Regions from separate parts of the Homo sapiens genome. Here region 1 is linked to region 2. The links come from fine-mapping of genetic effects on gene expression. A gene starts in region 2. The other region holds a variant in brackets. All regions are shown on one strand. Distances are between the middles of the regions.

The links.
Region 1: its variant is fine-mapped to the expression of TPSG1 in unexposed skin (GTEx, PIP 0.97).

The regions. Positions count from the first base shown.
Region 1 is chr16:1,201,017-1,206,324 of GRCh38, forward strand. It overlaps CACNA1H (calcium voltage-gated channel subunit alpha1 H), which reads left to right. Exons shown (of 35, transcript NM_021098.3): 9 at 647-1,436; 10 at 2,994-3,442; 11 at 4,098-4,249; 12 at 5,088-5,273. LOC124903623 (a long non-coding RNA gene) reads right to left here and starts at 695. Exons shown (of 3, transcript XR_007064938.1): 1 at 628-695; 2 at 316-373; 3 at 1-205. The variant C/T (reference allele first, on the strand shown) is at 3,353.
Region 2 is chr16:1,222,393-1,227,750 of GRCh38, forward strand. It overlaps TPSG1 (tryptase gamma 1), which reads right to left and starts at 2,876. Exons shown (of 6, transcript NM_012467.4): 1 at 2,815-2,876; 2 at 2,210-2,236; 3 at 1,031-1,202; 4 at 260-525. The coding sequence starts at 2,860. LOC124903621 reads left to right here and starts at 2,859. Exons shown (of 2, transcript XM_047434997.1): 1 at 2,859-3,169; 2 at 4,062-4,848. The coding sequence starts at 2,859. The coding sequence ends at 4,848. RefSeq lists a silencer at 1,728-1,914.

The sequences.
Region 1 (5,308 bases), 21 kb before region 2:
TGGGTGCTGGCTCAGGGCTGAAGAGCCAGGAACACCCTGGGGAGTGCATAGCCTCCCAGCACCGCTTTCCACGGGCGTGTGTGGCCCCAGGTGTGCTCCTTAGCTGGTCCTCTCATAGGCCCCAGTGGGTCCTGGCAGAGTTGGGTTAATCAGGCCGCAGACGTCTGTGGGGTCCTAGGTATACCTAGAGCCACCCTGCGGGGACCTAGTAGGTAACAGAAGCAGACAGACGTCCCCAGCTTGTTCTGAGAGAGCAAGCGAAGCGAACGATTAGAGACTTGCTGCACGCTGGTCCATGCTAAGGAGGAAACGCACCTGGGGTGCTGGGGAGGGGAGAGTGGCCACCGTTGAGAGGGTCATCTCAAGGCCAGATCTGCAGGTAAAGGAGGGGCCGAGCCACATGGAGAAGCAGGAAAGAGGGTTCCAGGTCTTTTGTCCAGATAGGCACAAAGCAGCTACTGTATGCCGTCTGCTCCAGACGTGGGGGCTCAGCACTGAACACCGCAGCAGCCTGCCCATAGCAGGGCACCTCGCCCACTGTGCCTGTGACGCGGCCCCCACTCGAACAGGCAGCGCACAGTAGGGCTCAGTGGCGAATCAGAGACTCGCTCACTCACTGCCACTTACCCGCCCGCCCCCGTCACAGGTGGGCTCCTTCTTCATGATCAACCTGTGCCTGGTGGTGATTGCCACGCAGTTCTCGGAGACGAAGCAGCGGGAGAGTCAGCTGATGCGGGAGCAGCGGGCACGCCACCTGTCCAACGACAGCACGCTGGCCAGCTTCTCCGAGCCTGGCAGCTGCTACGAAGAGCTGCTGAAGTACGTGGGCCACATATTCCGCAAGGTCAAGCGGCGCAGCTTGCGCCTCTACGCCCGCTGGCAGAGCCGCTGGCGCAAGAAGGTGGACCCCAGTGCTGTGCAAGGCCAGGGTCCCGGGCACCGCCAGCGCCGGGCAGGCAGGCACACAGCCTCGGTGCACCACCTGGTCTACCACCACCATCACCACCACCACCACCACTACCATTTCAGCCATGGCAGCCCCCGCAGGCCCGGCCCCGAGCCAGGCGCCTGCGACACCAGGCTGGTCCGAGCTGGCGCGCCCCCCTCGCCACCTTCCCCAGGCCGCGGACCCCCCGACGCAGAGTCTGTGCACAGCATCTACCATGCCGACTGCCACATAGAGGGGCCGCAGGAGAGGGCCCGGGTGGCACATGCCGCAGCCACTGCCGCTGCCAGCCTCAGACTGGCCACAGGGCTGGGCACCATGAACTACCCCACGATCCTGCCCTCAGGGGTGGGCAGCGGCAAAGGCAGCACCAGCCCCGGACCCAAGGGGAAGTGGGCCGGTGGACCGCCAGGCACCGGGGGGCACGGCCCGTTGAGCTTGAACAGCCCTGATCCCTACGAGAAGATCCCGCATGTGGTCGGGGAGCATGGTGAGGACCCAGCCCCACCCCACGGAGGAGGCGGTGGGACCTAGGCAGGGCGGGCAGGGTCTCCGGTGTGTCATTCCCACACCCATTGTGGGCACTCTGATGAGCCCAGCTTTGACTTGTGAAACAGACCAGCTATGCCTCTGGAGCCCATAAGAAGGGGAAAGAGGCAGGTCCCGCCCCTGACAGCGCCAAAGCAAGCTCCCGGTGGCCCACAGCTCATGGCAGGAGTGGTAGCCGCGGAGGTGGGATTTTGAATCTGACAAGGCTTGTCAGACCCTCCTGGGGCAGCATCCCATTGCCCCTGCCTGGCCCCGAGAGGGACCGTATGCTTGTGTCCACAGCCTGGACGCTTCCCTGGAGGACGTGCAGCGTCCTTCGTGGCCATTGAGGCTGGCCCCCCTTCTAGGTGGGGACGCTGAGTGGGGGAGTGTGGGGGAGGCACCGTCGCAGAGTCACCGAGAGTCAGGAAGAGAGGCTGGCGTGGGGTTCTCCTATGCGGGGCCTGGGCCTCTGTCCACCAGGTGAATGGGAGACTCCAGGGCCCCCAGATGGTAGGGTTCCACACGGGCCTGGGGGCCCTTCCTGGTTCTGTACACAGATGTAGAGACGCAGGCGGGGGTGTGTCCCCCGTGGTGGGGAGAGGTGCGAGCGAGGGTGCCGAGGGTGCCGGGATGCTGTGTGCCCTCATGCGCTGGTACCCAGGGCGTGCAGACGAGTGTCGGGCGCATGCTCCTAGCCCTTGAATTGTGGGAGTCCAGCCGCTGTGTGTTATAAGAGGCACACGGGCTCCAAAGACAGCACGAAAACATCACAGGACGGCTCGATGGTCATTTTCATGTCAGTTTCGTGTTGGAGTAACCATGGTTTGCTCGCATCGAGTCAAACAGAATCCCGTAGCTAACTTCGCCTGTGTGCTGTGGCTGCTGGGAAGTGGCTGCTGTTATATTTCTGTGGATGGCACAGCCCAAGGCAGGCAAACGTCTCTGCACCTAAGTGTGTCCCTGCCCCAGTACGTGAGCAGGAATGCGGCTGTGGGGGTTGGGTGTGTGTGCCCAGGTGTGTGCCCAAATGTATGGTTTTTCTGATGTTTGTGGCTGCTGTACCCACGAACTAGTGGGTTTAGAACAGCGGAAAATCACTCAGCTCTGGAGGCCAGTGCTCCAAAATCCAGGCCTTGCAGGGTTGCTTCCTCTGGAGGCTCTAGGGGAGAACTCTCCTCGCCTCTCCTAAGTTCTGGCGGTTTTGCAAGTCCCCGGCTTGTCGACACGTCCCTGCGGTCTCTCTGTCTTCACATGGCTCTTTGGTTTCTTCTTATTGGAACAGTCGTGGCTCAGGGCCCTCCCTACTCCGGGATAGCTTCATTCCTCATTGTAACCCATGACACCTGCAAAGATCCTGCTTTCTGTGAAGTCCAGTCACAGGTTCTGGAGGTTGGACTCTGGATGGATCTTTCTGGGGGGGACACATTCACCCCACCGCTCCTGTGTGTGAGGGTTCCCGGGCCCTTGTGGCAGCACCACTGAGTGGGCCTGCCCCTGTCTGTGCCCTCTCCCGCAGGACTGGGCCAGGCCCCTGGCCATCTGTCGGGCCTCAGTGTGCCCTGCCCCCTGCCCAGCCCCCCAGCGGGCACACTGACCTGTGAGCTGAAGAGCTGCCCGTACTGCACCCGTGCCCTGGAGGACCCGGAGGGTGAGCTCAGCGGCTCGGAAAGTGGAGACTCAGATGGCCGTGGCGTCTATGAATTCACGCAGGACGTCCGGCACGGTGACCGCTGGGACCCCACGCGACCACCCCGTGCGACGGACACACCAGGCCCAGGCCCAGGCAGCCCCCAGCGGCGGGCACAGCAGAGGGCAGCCCCGGGCGAGCCAGGCTGGATGGGCCGCCTCTGGGTTACCTTCAGCGGCAAGCTGCGC[C/T]GCATCGTGGACAGCAAGTACTTCAGCCGTGGCATCATGATGGCCATCCTTGTCAACACGCTGAGCATGGGCGTGGAGTACCATGAGCAGGTGCGGGCTGGCCTGGCCACGGGGTGGGCTCCCTGTCAGGCTTGCAGGGCCTGGGGAGTCTCAGGAGGCTTCCAGCAGCCCCGATGCCTGACCTGATGGTAGGACGGTCAGGCAGGGCTCTAGAAAGCCGGGGATGGTGAGGATAGGAGACCAGGTGTGCCGAGCCTCCACTGGAGGGGATCTCCTTGGATTCCTGGCCTCCTCTCTAGACGGCAGCTGATTAGGCTCCTTTTGAGATGCTGCTGCAGCCCTCTTGACCCTTTGGGTCTTGATGCAGCCAAACCTGCTCCCAGATCAGTGCCGGGGAGGGGTGGGAGCCGTGGGTGGGGCCCCAGATCAGTGCCGGGGAGGGGTGGGAGCCGCGGGTGGGGCCCCAGATCAGTGCCGGGGAGGGGTGGGAGCCGCGGGTGGGGGCCCAGATCAGTGCCGGGGAGGGGTGGGAGCCGCGGGTGGGGCCCCAGATCAGTGCCGGGGAGGGGTGGGAGCCGCGGGTGGGGGCCCCGATCAGTGCCGGGGAGGGGTGGGAGCCGCGGGTGGGGCCCCAGATCAGTGCCGGGGAGGGGTGGGAGCCACGGGTGGGGGCCCCAGATCAGTGCCGGTGAGGGGTGGGAGCCGCGGGTGCGGCCTCCTGAACTGTCCCCACCTCTGCCTGCAGCCCGAGGAGCTGACTAATGCTCTGGAGATCAGCAACATCGTGTTCACCAGCATGTTTGCCCTGGAGATGCTGCTGAAGCTGCTGGCCTGCGGCCCTCTGGGCTACATCCGGAACCCGTACAACATCTTCGACGGCATCATCGTGGTCATCAGGTGGGTCCCCACCCTCTCCCCAGGAAGAGGGGCCCGGGAAGCTCCACTCTCTGGCAGAAATCCCACCTGCAGAGCAAAACCCAGAGCACAGGAGGAAGTACGACGATAGCTCTTTATGACAGGCCGTGGGAAGCAGGTGCTTGGTGACCCCAGTGGCCCAAGGGACCGTCCTGGGCAGAGTCCCCTCCCCAGACGCTATGCTTCCCTGCAGGCACTACGGGGTGCGCACCTGTTAGGTCAGCTGCGTCTCAGATGTTTCTAGAAACTAGCGGAGCTGTTTCCTGCAGGAACAAAGCAGGTGTGGGGTGGCCTCAGGGCCGAGCGAGAAAGACCAGCTTAAAAGGCTGAATCCTGCTTGCTGCTGGAGGAGCATTTGCTACAAGAAAATTAAACCAGAAAGGATTGGGAAAATTTGAGGGGAAACGCCCCCGGTCTTCCCCTAGGAGGACGCTCATCCCTCAAGAGTAGAGAGGGGTGCAGGGTCTCCCATCCTGGGGCGGGGAGGGAGTGAGCAGAACGGACAAGCCAGGTCTGGCTGTGGAAGGCCCAGGATAGGAGAGCGCCCTCGGCGAAGGAGCTTCCCTGCCCTGGCCAGAGCCAGGCTTCTTTCCCAGGGGGCACTGGGGGCCGGGTAGCCCCCGGGGCCATCAGCGGATAAGCGGCTTTTGAGGTGCTTCCGCAGCTGTTCATGCACCTTGATGCAGCCATACCCTCTCCCATCTGTGGGATGCAGCACAGGCCGCTGTGGCTCCCTGGCTGGTGACCCTGCTTCCAGTGGGACGAGGGCCTGGGGTCAGGGATCGTGGCCCCGCTGACCCTCGCCCCCACCTGTCCGCAGCGTCTGGGAGATCGTGGGGCAGGCGGACGGTGGCTTGTCTGTGCTGCGCACCTTCCGGCTGCTGCGTGTGCTGAAGCTGGTGCGCTTTCTGCCAGCCCTGCGGCGCCAGCTCGTGGTGCTGGTGAAGACCATGGACAACGTGGCTACCTTCTGCACGCTGCTCATGCTCTTCATTTTCATCTTCAGGTGGGCGCAACCCCCCTCCCGGCCCGCCCAGTGTC
Region 2 (5,358 bases):
CTGGGGGGATGGGAGACCTTGCCAGACACAAGTCCCATGCCACCACGACCCTCGTCACGGCACGTGGGTTGTGATCTGACGTTTGGCTGCTGCTTTGGATCCACACGACAGGCTTTGAAAAGGGACAGCCGATAGGGGCGGCCTTGGCTGGGTGTGGAAGCCACCAGGAGCAGGTGGTAGCATCAGCATCCCTCAAGCCAGCTCTCTTCCTGCCGCCCTTGCCTTCCTCCATCCCAGCATCCCCACGGGGGCTCCTCACCTCCCTCCCGCGTATAGCCCCAGCCGGTCACCCAGCACCGGATCCCAGGGCAGAAGTCATCTGAGGCCTCCGGGAGGCAGACGGGCAGGATCCGGCTGGAGAGGGTCACGGGGACACTGAGCTCCACCAGGGCGATGTCCCCGCTGGTCCCCGGCTGTCCTGAGGGGCTGGAGTGCAGGATGATCTGCCTCACGGTGGAGAAGTGGGGAGACAGAGTGATCTCCAGTTCCCCCAGGTGCACCTGGTAGTCGGATGAGTTCAGGGACCTGGGAGGGAAGGTGGCTGGGTGAGAGGGGCCAGCTGCGGAGGCTGGAGGTCAGTGTCGGCCCCGCCCAGACCCTACCCTTGCAGGCATCCGAAGCCCAGCTCTTCCCTCCTAGGCTTGGGACGCAGAAAGCCTGGGCAGTGGCCTCACCCTGCAGGGCCCAAGGACCACGGCAGCACCTTGGGGTTCCTGCCAGCCCCTGGAAAAGCCAGCAGCATGCCCGACACCAGCAGGGGCTGGTCAGGAGGCAGATTGCAAGCTCAGCTCCACGTGAAGAGACCGAGGGGAGGGAAGGAGGGAGGGAGCTGTCCATCCCTAGAGGTGAGCAAAGAGCTGCAGAACCTCACAGAAGGTGGGCAACCAGCTCCTCCCTTTCCATTGGAAGGAAGTAGGCTCAGAGTTCCCAAGCCTCGGAGTGAGTCAAGACCAAGTGGAGGCCTCTGCGCTGGCGCATGCCCCACTGGGGCCTGGACATTGAGACTGCCCCTGCCCACCCGGACACTCACCCGGAGAAGCAGTGGGCAGCTGTGAGCACCCACTGGGGGCTGAGCAGTGACCCGCCGCACACGTGCACCCTCCGCAGGCGGAGGCTGGCCTGCCATGGCCATGCGCCGGCCGGGGCAGCGTGACCCCCCACGATCCGGCCGCCTGCATCCGAAACCTGCGGCCGGCCACACCCTAAGTCGAAGGAGGAAGGGGTGCCTGGTGGGGATCCCAAGAAACCCACTGCACTTCCTCCATGAAGCCTTCCCTGACCACACCTCCCTGCCTTCTTGGGGACTTTGCTCTTCAGCTCTCTCGTCTGCCAGACTCTCCCCAGAAGCATCGTGGGTGCAGCAGAAATGACGTCTCAGGAGCAGTGAGCGCGCCTGGGGCTCAGGTCGTCCTTTCTAAGCACCATGCTCCACAAACTAACCAGGGCTCCCGGAGGCGGTGGAAAGGCTGCAGAGGGCCCCTAGGCGGCTAGAAAGGGGCTCAGAACGGTGGAGCCCCCGAGAAGGCCCGGGGTGCTGGGGGTGGCTGCCTAGTGGGCCCCGGTTTTCCTTCAGGGGTGGTGGAGATATTCGAAGCTGGATAAAATTCGGGGGGCGGGGGGCAGACAGCACTGTCCAAGGTGCTCGGGGCCTCTGAATTGGACGCTTGATAATGTAACTTTATCTTCTGTAAACTTCACCTCAGTAAGTTAAGAAGAAATTAAGAGGAAGTCAGCTGGAGACCCACTGGCCACACCTGGGTCTGCCTGAGCTGGATAATTGTGCTGGTGATGGAGTGTGGCCACTGGGCTGAATGGAAGGGAAGCTGGGATGTAGACAGACAGAGATGTTTATAGATAGGCAGCGGGTGTGGGGTGGGGCACCGGCTCTCCCACACGGCAAAGCCCCCAGCTGGTTCCAGGGCCACGGTGGGGACGCTGTGGGGAGAAAGTTCGAGGAGGGCCAGGTTGTTTCATGGCCTCAGAGCATCTCCCAAGGTACAGACTGACTACAGTGGTGGTGGGGGAGACAGCCCTGCAGCACACCCCGACCAGCCCCACTCAACCGAGAGATGCGAGCAGAAACCACGGCGACAAACTATGACCTCCCCGGGCCCCCATTGGGACCCCAGGGAAGGAGAGGGTCACCGAGGCCCTCCTGCCAGGCCTTGCCTGCACCCTCCCCCACACCCCACACCTGTCAGAGACGTACCTGGCTGCAAAGTCCTGAGGGACACACCTGTGGGAAAGACGAAGGGCCCAGGATGGAGGGGGCTGCCAAGGAGAGGGGTGTGCGGGCTCCAGAGGCCCCTGCCAGGCCTCAGGGCGGCACTGGGGTGGGGCCTGGTCCTGAGCAGAGGGGCCCGGCCTGGTGAGGCTGGGTCAACTGCTGTCTCACTGGCCCAGGGCTGGGTGGGACAAGCCACAGGCCATAAACGGCAGCTGGAGGCCGGGAGCTTGGCCTCAGGCCTGGGCCTCCTCCCCGCCCTCCAGGTCCTGCTCAGGAAAGAAATCACCAGTGTTCTAGGGCCTGGGACTCCTGGCACCCCCAACTCCCACCCGCACCCCCAACTACCACCCGCCCTGCCAACTCCTGCACCCCCAACTCCCACCCGCACATCCCTCCTGCCTCTCCCCAGCACGGACAGCTGGGCCTCCAGCCAGGGGTGCAGTCTCTTCAGAGGAGACACGGGGCCCCACAGGGTGGGGACTCAGCATGTTTCTCCGTCTCAGACCAGCCCCCAGTTTCACCCCCATCAGGGGTCCAGGCAGGAAGCAGATGCCCCCCCATCCCCACACCCAGGCCAGGTCACCCACCGGGCACAGCCAGGAGCAGCAGGAGGCCACAGGCCCCAAGGGCCATGGTGTCTGCCCACTGTAGGGAGAAGGAGGGCCAGCCTGACCCTTGGACCTGCTGGGCGTGGGGGATAGGGGTGGCCACACACCTGCTGTCAGGCAGGGCGGGAGGACGGAGGAGGAGGCCGGAGCTCCACAGACGGCCCCACCTGTTCCTTCTGCACCTCAGAGAAGGGTCGTCACCTCCATTTATCCCTGTGTGGACGCCACAGCCCTGGCACCAAGTGGCCGGCTCCGTCAAGGGAAAGCGGGGAAGGACAGAAGGCAAAAGTACTTCTCACCTTGTCTCTGCTCCGGGGCCAGGGCTGAGGGAGGGGTGAGTGTTCCTCTGAGTGCCGCCCCCTCCAAAAATTACTCCCTGGTTCCCTCGGGGCACGCCACCCCCTCTCCTTCATCCTCTGGGAGCCCAGTCCTGGGGGTTCTTCAGGAGGGTCCCAACTCAAGGCCCAGCAGCCCTTTGGAGACAGCTCAGGCCCTCGTGACAACCACTCTTTGAGAAGTCCCTGTCCCCACGTCCGGCAGCAGGTCCTGTGCTCGTGCGGCAGATCAGATGGGCACCACTTCACGGCCCAGCCTGGGTTGGCCCTTCCTAACCGTCCTGGCTGCCCCAGCCTGATGACTCAGCTGATTAGGGGCCCTGGGCAGCGCCCGGGACTTTCCTGCCGCCCTCCCCAGATCCAAATCACAGGCCAGGCTGGAGGGTCCAGCTGAGACCTTCTAGGTCAGGGATCCCCTCTTTGATGTGGGGAAACTCAGCCACGGGTTGGGGGGAGTTGCCTGACCACCCACCAGGATGTGGCCTCCCAGGCACAGACGTGGCCGCCTGCACGCCAGCACGTGGGGTAGCCAAGGCTCAGAACTGGAGGTTCAGTGTTTTTCCTGGTGACCAATAAGGACAACACCAGCATGCGGGGCCAGCAGTGCACCCACGGCCGGGCACCCTCCTCCCTCACGGCAGCCGCACACCTGGAGGGGGCGCCTCAGGGGAGGCAGGACAGTCCCACCCCACACAAGGGAGCGGGGTCTGAGCCACGAGTCCCCGGCCCAGGGTGCCCCTAACAGGGCGATGTCACCCAGTGGGGAGGGAGCCTGAGGGGCAGGGTCTTCATGGAACCAGGTCCTCTAGTCCTGACCTCTAGGGCTGTCCCCAGGTCCCCACAGGTGGGGACTTCAGGGCCCTCACCTGTCCCAACTCAATTCACCTGCAGCACTGGGGACCCCGTCTTTCTGCCTGTGCCCCAGCACGCCACTCCCCGCAGAGTGCTCCACACGACCCAGATTGCAGGCCTGCTGGGGAGGAAGAAGCTTCAGGCACCATCCCCTGAGCCCCAGCAGTCCTGTGACATGGTGCCGTTCACCCCCACCATTGGACAGGAGAGCCAACTGAGGAACCGGGAGGGGGGCCTGGCCCTGGTGATTGCCCCCAGCTTGGTGGGGTCTCCTGTTGTCCAGGACCCTGGGAGACCTGGGATTGCTTCTGTCTGCGGTGGCCTGGCCACCTGGGTGCCGTCCCCTCGGTGGGAACCCTGTCCCCCCCACTCGCCCTCCGCCTCACACCCCCCTGTGACGGGGAACCAGGGCCTCCTGCCGGCAGCCACGTGGGTGACCTTGGAGCAGGTGCCCCCGTCCCAGTCAAAACGCAGGTGGCTGCAGCCCTGGCCAGCAGCCTGCCTGCCACGTCCTGAGAGACCCTTCCTGCTGAAGCTGACGCTCACATCTGCCAGTGTCACTGGGCTGAGCTTCACTGAGCTTCCCAGGGATCTTAGATCTAATTTGGGAAGCTCTGGGGCTGGAGCCCGCCCTCCCCCTCCACCCAGTGACCGGCCCCTGCTGTCCACCTTTCCTTACACCGGCAGCCCTGTCCTGAGGGGCCGTCTTGCTTCCCTTCGGGGTCTCATCCCTCCGACTCCCACCCCGCAAAACCTCCAGTGGGCGTGTGGAAGTGCTTCTAGGGGCTCAGTGTTCCCTGGGGGTCACCCCGTGCTGTCTCTGTGATCCCTAGAAGGTGGGATGGGCCAGAGGGAGGAAGAAGGGCCCGAGTTCCAGGTCCATCTTCATTAACAAGACGCTGGGCCTGCAGAACAGGAGCCGAGGGATGGGCCTTCAGGGGCTGCAGAGGCAGAGGTCACGTGGGGCTGGAGAGGGCACTGGGAGTTGAGTCCACCCCTTGTGAGGACAGAGGTCATTTGCAGAGATTCGGGAGACTAAATGCACATCTCTGCATCTAACAGTTGGAAGGAAAGAGTGAATGTTTCTTTAGAGAGTTGTTTTCAACCAGAACAGCCCCGCATTTCATTCCTGAGTGTAATCATGTTCAAATATAAAATGCAAACAAGAGCCCGGGATAAAATGCAACACTCGCCAGACGCAGAGGGCTCACCTATTGATGTAGAGAAAGACCTCAAAATGAATTTGAAAATGTCAAACTCAGGCCGGGTGCGGTGGCTCACGCCTGTCATCCCAGCACTTTGGGAGGCCGAGGCGGGCGGATCACTTGAGGTCAGG